Homo sapiens: one gene and its partners. The protein of the gene in region 2 purifies or fractionates together with the protein of the main gene of each other region. This does not show direct contact. Each region holds a gene or a part of one and is shown on either strand. Other genes may lie near its edges.

Region 1 (3,660 bases), on a different chromosome or scaffold from region 2:
CAGTTTTAATTTCTGGCTAGAGCTTCTTTGCTAAGAATAACAAATACTCATGTTCACTGTAAAGGGACAATAACATTTCCAAATCCAGTAGAAGAGATATTTCTACTTAATGGCTTGCCTAAAATAATGTTTTAGATGTAATCTTGCATAGACAGGACACATAACATAAGCCCCCAATTTAAATGCTATTTTGAAATCTCTTGTTAATTAAAAACTTAATTAAAAACAAGCCTCTAAGTCTAGTAATTAGTCTTTGATTGTGAGGGTTCTGTGATGAAACGGACATGAAATAACGAATATTCTTCTCTCACCCCAGCAGTTAGTGGTCCTTTCAAATCAGAGTTTAGGTAGATGGGCGGCGCTGTGTGTGGAAGCTTGAAAGCACTGGGTCCTCCCCCTATGTACCTGGCCTGTATATAAACAGAAAATTTTAGTTTCTGATCTAATATTATAGAATCACTTTTCATCGATACATATCATGTTAATTCATAAAAATAACATAAAAATACCCTTTAGCCTTACACCATTTACAGTGTGTTCATGTTAGCTTTAACAACTTAAAACAACTTAAAATATCCAATATTAATATTATTAAAGATCCAATATTAATATTGGATCTTTGCTTCATAGGTAGACATTTCTCTCACAAAAGTCTTATTCAGAAAATATAAAGAATAGTCCAAGTAAGAATTGGCATGAATTTGAAGATAAAACTAGTACATATTTATCTCTTTTAAACTCTTCAAACTGTTCTGTGGTTACCCCCATAGTCAAATCAATTTTATTAACTGCATTAAGTACTTTCAATCCTTTTGATTATAAGATACCATTGAACTAGAAATTTTACCCTCTTTGAGAATAACAGAAATGAGTGTTCTACAAAATTTTTCTTCACATGTAATGTAATTTATACTGATTGCACCATGCATATATCAAACGCTTGTAACAAAGTGAATGCTCTATAAAATTCATATGATTATTAAGGTTGCTTCAATATGGCCCTTTGTTTCTCACTACTGTCTAAACCTATTAGAACTAGCTGTTTTTTTCTGTAGTTACTCATTTGACAACAATTCACATTTATATTCAAATATCAGGATCCAGATAGAATCAGTCATCTAAGTCATATTTGATGCAATTTTGGTTATTCAGTCATCCAATTGGTAAATATTTGAGTATTATGTTCTAAGTACATTAAAATATATTTGGGGGCACTGAAACATAGTTTTATCTTCCTAGAGTAAATGTGAAAATTTTTGAATGTGTAAAAAGCTATTCTCTTTAAGTGTACAAAATTGGATTAATTCTATCACTAGAAATAAAAATGATGAGGAAAAAATAACCCTCCTTCATATGAAAAATGTGTAAAGTATATCGTCATTAGTCTGTTATATGTATGAATACTATATTTTTATTCCTAAGAAAAATGCAAAGAATTTCAGAACTCTATTATTTGTCTTTCTCCTTCATAGATATAATAGATTATCAATAGCAATGTGTAAAATATGTATCATGTCTCCACTTCTGTGATATTTTAAAGCAGAAAATATCAAATGTAAGGTTACCAAGACTTTTTCCTTGAAAAATTTCAGATGTAGGAGTGAATTTTAATAACTATAAAATTATGTCTAATTAGAAAAATATAATATTCTCTGATAGTACACAATGTATCCATGTGAAAAGATTGATTTTCATAGAAGTGAATAGTTGAGCATCAATTTTAGGCTTAGAAAGCCTAATCATGGGTTCAGAACTAGACTGAATATGTGGGATCCTATTCAGATTCTTCAGGAACACCAATGACTGTGATTGCAAAATAATTTGAATGTAGATTGGCCACATTGGATATTTACAATGTAAAAGTGCATTTTGATGAAGTAACTTTTGTAAGTCAGAAAAATAAATAACTATTCAATAAATAAGTGAATAAACCAAGAAAAATTGTTTCATAATACTAAATTGATACTCTTAATTTAGAGAAAAAATATTCTAAAATTATCAGAAAGAATATTCAGATAATTCACTGAAGTAAATCTTCACAACTTTAACTGGATAATTGTATCATTTAGCTATTTCCCTTAAAAGTTGCCAACCTCAGCTTATAGTAATAAAAACTAACAAATATTTTTAAATTTAAAAGGCTGTGGATTGTCAGGCTATATGTATCAATGAAATGTTTTAAACTAGTAAGGATATTATGACAGATAGAAAAATATTTCTCAAAAGTGATTTAATTACAAAGAAGTCCAAGGACACAGCTTATCTGGCTCATCATTTAAACATTATTGGAAACAACATACTTATTTTGATAATAAAGTACTGTACTCTTTTATATTTAAAAAATACACTGACCAAGATTTTTACACTAAGCTGTGTATCTAGATTTGCTAATACCTCAACACATTTGATTAGAGCATTATTTTACATGAATTATACATATTTATGAGATACTGTGTTTTGTTATGTTTTTATACATGTATACATTGCAGAAAAAATCAAAGTATTTAGCATATCTATCACCTCATACATAGTTATTTTTTTGTGGCGAGAACATTAAAAATCCTTTTCTAGCTATTTTTAAATATACAATACAATATTGTTAACCACCATCACCTAACTGTGCAACAGAACACCAAAACCCATTCCTCTTATCTGACTGTGACTTTGTACCCATTGAACAACACCTATTTTCCTTCCTCCTCCCCTCTCCACCCTCTAGTAACCACTATTCTACTCTCTACTTCAATATTAACTTCTATAGATTCACATGTGAGTGAGATCATGTGGTATTTGTCATTCTGTGCCTGGATTATTTCATATATGACAATATCATCCAGCTTTATCCATGTTGCCTCAAATGACAGGATTTCCTTCTTTTTTATGGCTGAATAGCATTTTCTTTATTCATTGTTGATGCACACTTAGGTTGATTCTATATCTTGGCTATTGTGAATAATGCTGTAAAAATCATGGAAGTACAGATATCTCTTCAATGTACTGATTTCCTACTTATTATGTATCAATTAAAACAAAAAACATTAAAAGAAGGATTCCATGTCTGAAGTGATGAAAACAAAACTATCTTGTAAGTATCCAGTTCCTACCAAACCAAAACCCCATAGAACCACACTGTAAGGAATACTGGGAGGAAGTGGGTAGAAAAGAAAATGTCTCACCAAACTACTTTTCAGCCATATTTCTAGAAGCTGTGCATGTATTGGTCTTCTCCTTGCATATATTTCAACATTGAAAGTCAGTAGCTTTACTTTATAATAGACCTTTATCTATCTATATATCTATCTATCCCCTGAAGAAGACCTAAACAATTTGCTGTGTGATATCAATACTAAAACAATTTTTAAATGAGTTTTTCGTTTGCTTTATGTAAACAAAATTAGATAATGAATCATTTTTCAATAAAAAACATATAAAAACATGTTTATAAAAGAACTGAGCAAATAAATATGTGTTTTCTAAGATGTGTTACACTCAGCTTCAGGTGAATGCAGTCCATAATTGTACTTTCTCTTTAGAAGAGGCTATATCATTCAATACATCCTAAAGTCCCTTATTCTAACTTCAGATAACAGAAAAACTTGGTGAAATTCAGAACCATAAAACAGAGATGCGACTCAAGAATGTTAGTGCTCACTGCCCATT
Region 2 (3,660 bases):
TTGAATGATGCAGAAGCTGAGAACCCTGGGGTTATTTGTGAATTGAGTGTTTGTAAATAGGGAACTTCCCTTGGACAGAAGACTCAACTTAAGACTTAACATAACCTTATATCAGCTGTGGAGGTCCTGGAATAACCTATGGGCTCCCAATATGATATAGCTCTGGTAGACATAAATTTAGAGATGCCATTATGGAAGAAAAGAGAAACTCAGGTTAGTTATCAACAAGATAGCTTTTCCAATGATATGATGTTTTCAGCCTGGTTAAATTTGCCCTTTGCTTACACTGAATCTTTAGTAAAAGTCCCATTCACACAACTGCTGTGTGAGATGTAACCCCTCTCCCCTAACCCCAAGTTCAAAAAGGAATTCTTGTTAGGGGATATCTAGGTTTTCTGATTGCATGTGAGGGCATGAAAGGAAAGATGTTGGAGAGGAATTGGTCTAGAGGAAGGATCTAAAAGAAAGATCTTTTAACTGAGGGCTGAGCCTATACATCCCCAAAGAAATAATTTGATTGATAAGTAACTGGAGTCCCTGAAGGTGTAACAGTTGACTTTAATTATATAGTCAGTCTTCAGGAGACAGAGATTCAATTTGTGCTCTAAATGGGATCTGCAAGACAAACACTAAGGGGATAGTTAGGGTCCGTCAATAGTGTTTAAGTAGGCAATGGGAAGGGTGGGAAATCCGCAGCTCACAGATAAGATTGAGAAAAATTCAAGGACAGGTGGCTCGAAAGAAATCCTCAAGCAACAAACAGAAGGGAAAGCTCAGTTCAGGAGTTCAGGTCATTGACTTGATGTTCATTATGGTTTTCATGCTTTGAGGGGCCACTCTACTAAAACACCAGGTTTAGGTGGAGGTTATATTTCCTTTCAAGATTTATTTCCCCCATGAAAACAAAACAAAAAACAAAAACTACAAGATGCCATGGCTGGTAAACTGGGAAGAAGAAACCATTTCTTTCTACCTTTTCCCTAACTCTCCCAAACTTTATACAAATCTCAACATCTCTCCCTCAGCAGCAGGAGAGTGAATATGGAAGAGGTTTTCTCCCATATCCTTTGTGGTGGCAGGTGTGTGGGAGAGGGATTAAGTAGGAGAATATATGCTGGACCAAGTTAGTCATCTATCAAGGGAGAGCTCAGAAGGTCTAAAAGTTTCCAAAAATGACAAACAACCCTGCTCTGATGAGTAATGGGAATAACAACCCATCACTCATGGAGGGCTTTCTATCCCTTCACCATATTGCAGAACATGAAACTGTCAAATATAAATACCATTATCTCGATCAGCAGGATTCCAGTCAAAATCATCTTCTCTATCCTGTTTCCAGTCACAGATCCCATGATTGAAGCTGCAGTCAACCGAGATATTTAAATCTGCTAAAAAGAAAGAACATATTTCATAACCCCTAAAAGCATTAGGAAGGTGTCTAACATTTGGGGCTTTGGAAGGCAATACCTTGTTTTCAGTCGCACAGAGTACAGATCATGACATACCCTGTTTTGAGTTATGTCTGTGAAGCCATTCTGAACAAATTCAGTTGTGATCTTAAAAAAACAAAAAGCTTTGGGAGGCTGAGGTAGGCAGATCACGAGGTCAGGAGTTCAAGACCAGCCTGGCCAACATGGTGAAACTCCGTCTCTACTAAAAATACAAAAATTAGCTGGGCATGGTGGCAGACACCTGTAATCCCAGCTACTCGGGAGGCTGAGGCAGGAGAATCACCCAGGAGGTGGAGGTTGCAGTGAGCCAAGATCACATCATTGCACTCCAGCCTGGGTGACAGGGTGAGACTCTGTCTCAAAAAAAAAAAAAAAAAAAACCCAAAATAAAACAAAAACCCTTTTTTAAAAAAAAAAAAAATTAGTAATGGGCGAGAACCCCATGCACAAAGAGAAACAGAATATAAGCAATTGTTTATCGAATTCAGGCCAGAAAATAAAATATCTCCTACCCAAATAAACCAGTGAAGACCTTGCCGGAACTTTCTACTTTCTTTTTCTTTTTTTTTGAGACAGGTTCTTGCTCTGTCACTCAGGCTGGAGTGTAGTGGCACAAACACAGCTCACTACAGCCTCTACCTCCTAGGCTCAAGTGATCCTCCCACTTCAGCTTCCCGAGTAGCTGGGACTATGGACACATGCTACCATGCCAGCTAATTTTTAAATTTTTTTTTTGTACAGATGGGGGTCTCATTGTGTTGCCCAGGCTGGTCTTGAACTCCTGGGCTCAAACGATCCACCTGCCTTGGCCTCCCAAAATGCTGGTATTCCAGGTGTGAGCCACCGTGCCTGGCCTCTAAACTGTTAATGACTGCCTTGTTTAGATGTGTCAGAGAAATATAAGAGTTCATTCAGCTAGTTTTAAGTTTTGAACCAGTGCCTGTGGTTACTTTTATGTAGATCCTGGCCCACTGTCTGTTTTATAAAGTTTTATTGAAACACACTATGCCCATTCATTCACATAACATCAATGACTGCATCTGAGCTACAATGACGGAGTTGAATAGTTGTGAAAGTAGTTTATGGCCTACAAAGCTTAAAATATGTACTATCTAGCCCTTTATAGAAAAAAGTTGGCTGACCTCTGATGTAGATAAATACCACTGGGAAAGGGCGGGGGTGAAGAATGAGATATTTTTTATTTATAACTAAGGCTAGCCTCTGGCTCTGATTTTGGGGCTTTATATGTTTTAATGCTGGGGAAGAAAGGAATGGTAAGGAAAGGGAATAGGGTAAAAAGAAACACAGCAGCAGCTGATTCTTGACTCATTTTGATTTGCCAAATATTTTATATCATTTGATTAGGTTGTTTAAAAAAACGTCTAGCATCAGACTCATTTTCAGGAAACTAAAACTAAGGCTCAAGTTCTGCTGACACTGAATGCTGGAGTTGGACCTGAATCCCAAATCAGACTGCAATCCAGGACCTTCCATCTTGCACATATCCTAAGTGAGCACATACGGTCCCTTTCCTCACTTTCCTTTCTTCTTAACTCCCTATTTTTTCTCTGTGCAGCAAATATATTTTCTTTCTAGTCCCAGTTTTAAAAGTAAAAGATGCCAGGTAATACTGGCTTCCAGTCTTCAGTATTCTTCAATGAGTGCTAATACTAGTTAGATAGTTGATGTTATTATCCCACAAATAGTGGAATATCAGCTTTTCAGTTGGTTTACAATTGTGGTGGAATGTTTCTCCCAAACTCTTCCCCTTCCTCCACATGGGGAAAGCGAGTGTGTAAATTGGGATGATGGAATAGTATATAGCAAACTATTCCATACAGAGATAAAACTCAAGGCTTTGGTCTCACAGGCACATTCTTTCATTTGTATAGCACTTCATGGTTTGGAAAGTGCTTTCACATATATTCTCTGGTTTAATCCACACCTGCCTTGAAGCAGATGCTCTTGGTGCCACACAAATATCTGTCAGTACTTATATTCTCTTGCAGGCATTTGGCTTTCTACTGGAAACACTCACAGCTCTCTGTGTGAGGGTGTTCTCTGGCTGGAGCATTCTTGGCCCAACCAGGTGAGCTAGAATGCTGGGAAGTTATTTTCCCAGGGACAGCCCTCAACCAGTGATGGACAGGAGTTGTTGGATAGATACCTCCATTTCCTTGCCTTTGGAAAGGACCACTAAGTGCTGGAA
Region 3 (3,660 bases), about 98 Mb from region 2:
TGGCCAACATGGTGAAACCCAGTCTCTACTAAAAATACAAAAATTAGCCCCACGGGGTGACACATGCCTGTAATCCCAACTACTCGGGAGGCAGAGACAGGAGAATCACTTGAAACTGGGAGGTGGAGGTTGCACTGAGCCGAGATCACGCCATTGCACTCCAGTCTGGGTGACAGAGCGAGACTTGGTCTCAAAATAAATAAATAAATAAATAAATAAATGGTATTACATGTACAGCAGAAAATTGATCACCACATGGCTATCATGATGACCCTTTCCAAATGTTTCCCCAAAATTAATTTCAAATGATCTGTCCATGTGTCATTTCTCAGACTATATGAAGTGTTTTGGTCATCTCCACAAATTTTACATTTATGAACAAATCAGAGGAATTACGTGCTTATACCACAATAAAGGGCCAGGAAGAATATTTATATTACTGCTAGTCATTACTTAGTCTTGAAAAACTTCCTCAAACTAAATATTAAAGTGGCAAACAACCTTTTTGTACTCTTTTGTGCCTATATATGACTTGCCTTTAAAAGAATACAAAGTAGAGCCGGGTGCAGTGGCTCACGCCTGTAAAACCAGCACTTTGGGAGGCCGAGGCGGGCGGATTGCCTGAGCTCAGGAGTTCACGACCAGCCTGGGCAACACGGTGAAACCCCGTCCCTACTAAAATACAAAAAAAAAAAAATTAAAATTAAAAAGTAGAGGTCTAAGGTGTCCAAAATCAGATACTTGATGGTACTTGCAGATAATGACTACTTTTAAATGTTCCAGAACCCTATGTCAAATTCATTGGTTATACTATCTTACCAACAAATCCTTTGAGCTTTCTTTCCTCCCAAATTATAAGTATCTAAAATCCTTAATTCCCAAGGTCATCCCAAAACATCACATCTCTTTTCATCTACTCCAACCCGTAAATGTTCTATTAACTGTCTACCTCTTAATCTATCCATGGTGCAAATTTCCCAATGCTAAACTCTCTTTCATTTCCTTATCCCTGAAAATTTCAGTACCTCTAATAGAACACTGCTAAATAAACTGCATTCCACTTACTCATTAATATCAAGAACCTGCAGCTCTGTCATGTAATGAAACCAAACAAATAGAGCAAACATTTCAAACAGACTTTTGGTTACCATTCTTTAATAAGGACTAATAAGATGTAAATGTGGTGATTAATTTAGCATGTTTCCTCATCTGTAAAACTGGTGGTTTAAAATATTCTTTAAATTATCTCCCAACTCCAAAAGTCTACAATTCTGTCTTAAAGTCTTAATTTATTCAATCTACTATCAATCCTACCCAGAGCATTTTCCTAAATTCCAAAAACTCAGAAATCACAGATTTCTAAGTCCTAGGTAAGGTTGTCATACGCCAAAGGAAAACCCAGTTAAGTGTGAAATTCCTACTAAATAACTTCCATAAATAAACAAACAAAACCTACCTTGCAAGGAATTCGAGTAACTAAAATGAACACTAGGCAAACAACTATAAAGAAACAAAAAGCTTACAACATATATTATGCAGGGTAGAAAGAGCAGGGGACTGGGAATCAAGGAGCTGCTCCTAGGGGCAGTTCTGCCAAAAGCTATACTTTAAGCAAATGGTAAAATCTGAATATGATGGAATTGGACTAGATAATCTCAAGAATCCGTGCCAAATCAAAATGATTTTAAAGTCTCCTTTGACTTAAAAATCCAAAATCGATACAAAATTCCACAAAAGGGAAGTCAGAGGCGTTACTGCACACAATTGACAACAACGGCTTAAACCTCTGCTAAATGAAATAATGGAATTTAGGTTATGCATTATTCTGGGGAAGTAGATAGCAAAGGATTTAGGGGCTGTATAGCCTTTTAGTTGTCTGATATTTGAGTAGACCTTGCCTTTCATTTGTTTCTCTTTAATTCTTCATCATAAACTATAAAAACTAAGTGACCAACATAAAGTCACAATTTTCTCAAATGAGAAAAACGTATTTATGAGGGCCCAGAAAACACTAAAGATTCTCTCCCTGGATTTGAATAGGACCTTTCCTAAAACATAACATTGATATACAATTATGATTATGGTGCTGTGAATTCTCAACCAGATTACTCACTTTTTAGATTATTCTCAGCAAAATTTTAATCCAAGTTGGCTTCCTCCTGCTACCCAGAGTATTTCTTTGTCACCACCTTCTACCACTAGTAAGCATTTTTTTAATATTAGCCTAAATAAAACACAATCAGAAAAATAAACCTATAAAAACATGATAAAATGCATTCCAAATAAAATGTTTGGAACATTTAGCATGTTGGGATAATATGATTGGAATGGAAGAGAGGTCTTTATAGTGAATGTTCTATTTTGATAGATAAACTATATCTAAACATTGTACCAGAGAGCTATGGACACTTAAGGATAATCTACTGTAAAGGTCTTGAGACCACACACTCTAATCAGAAAGAACTTCATAATGTATCTTGCTCAAGTTAAGTCAATTTTAAAACCATATATTTAAGCCATTATATGCATCAGTTTATTGTTCATTCATAAAACTAATTTTATAAGCACATAAATTGTAAATTTCTGTTACAGTTAATGTTTCATTACCACTGTGAGAGGAGATCCTTAAAAAACAATAGTAAGTCCTATTGGTATAAGTCCTTTTTGATTATTCTTCTCAAACCAGTAAAGTTTTGACATTAGGCACGATTATTTTATCACTTTGTATGTTTTAGAAAAAAAAAGTGAATATATCCACTCCACTCTGTTCTTTAGGAAAAAAGTAGCTTTTCCAAGTACAAGAGATCAACTAACTTGATCATCTTTTTTAGGCAATGATTGAACTTTTCATTTCACAGAGCATAATCCATCATTTTTTAAATTTGGTTCCTTAGATTATAAAGCTAAAGATGCTAACTCTTATGTAAAATTTTTTTACATAAAAGTTGTTACTGTTTCATTTTTTTATTCTAAGGAGTATCAAACTAACTACATTTATAATCTTTGTGAAAGTTTTCAAATCTCATTCATTTTTATGATTCCAATTCCACTTGAGATTCTAGGAGAAAACCTGTGAATGCTCACTACATACTGAAGATTAGAAAAAAATCTAGTAATTTCACTAAACTGCAATTAGGATTTGGACCCAATGCAAATGTGCACAACATAAAATTTCCTATACATTCTATAGATGTAGGAAGTTTATTAATTATATTATTTTGTAAATATATATTATGTATTTAATTTGATTTAATCACATTACATAGGTTGAATTTGGGGGTTGCTTTTAAAGTGTTGAGAGTTTAGTGTTTATTTTTGTAATCCAACAACTTTATCCAAAAATGCAGAAAATTTTTCTGGCTGGCCAGGAGGATAACATTTCAGTGTTGATAAGTCCATTGACTGTAACAGCCCAGGAAGCGTGCTAAAACAAAAGAAGAAAAATATTAGGTAACATGGGAGAAAATTCCATACTTCATCTGCTGCCCACTGATGACTGAATCTAACTTCCAAGAATATAGTGGTACTTCTAAAAACTGCACATGTGAATTTTTATATATTTTAATAAGTATACATACTAGGATTATTAAAGCAATACAAAGAGTACTATAAAATGTCAATATAAATTCAGCAGATACCTTATCTCCTATGTCAACTGAT

The links.
Region 1: the proteins of EGFL6 (region 2) and LRP1B purify together in Homo sapiens (affinity purification with mass spectrometry; 2 studies listed by BioGRID and IntAct, with this or other methods). This does not show direct contact.
Region 3: the proteins of EGFL6 (region 2) and ALG13 purify together in Homo sapiens (affinity purification with mass spectrometry; 2 studies listed by BioGRID and IntAct, with this or other methods). This does not show direct contact.

What each region holds. Positions count from the first base shown.
Region 1 is NC_000002.12:140,234,475-140,238,134, forward strand, and holds part of LRP1B (low-density lipoprotein receptor-related protein 1B precursor), read right to left. Parts: intron 411-3,660; coding exon 312-410; intron 1-311. UniProt on the Homo sapiens protein: Potential cell surface proteins that bind and internalize ligands in the process of receptor-mediated endocytosis.
Region 2 is NC_000023.11:13,621,549-13,625,208, reverse strand, and holds part of EGFL6 (epidermal growth factor-like protein 6 isoform 1 precursor), read right to left. Parts: intron 1,389-3,660; coding exon of another isoform or gene 1,386-1,388; coding exon 1,284-1,385; intron 1-1,283.
Region 3 is NC_000023.11:111,687,651-111,691,310, reverse strand, and holds part of ALG13 (UDP-N-acetylglucosamine transferase subunit ALG13), read right to left. Parts: intron 3,425-3,660; coding exon of another isoform or gene 3,310-3,424; exon of another isoform or gene 1,139-3,309; intron 1-1,138. UniProt on the Homo sapiens protein: Catalytic subunit of the UDP-N-acetylglucosamine transferase complex that operates in the biosynthetic pathway of dolichol-linked oligosaccharides, the glycan precursors employed in protein asparagine (N)-glycosylation.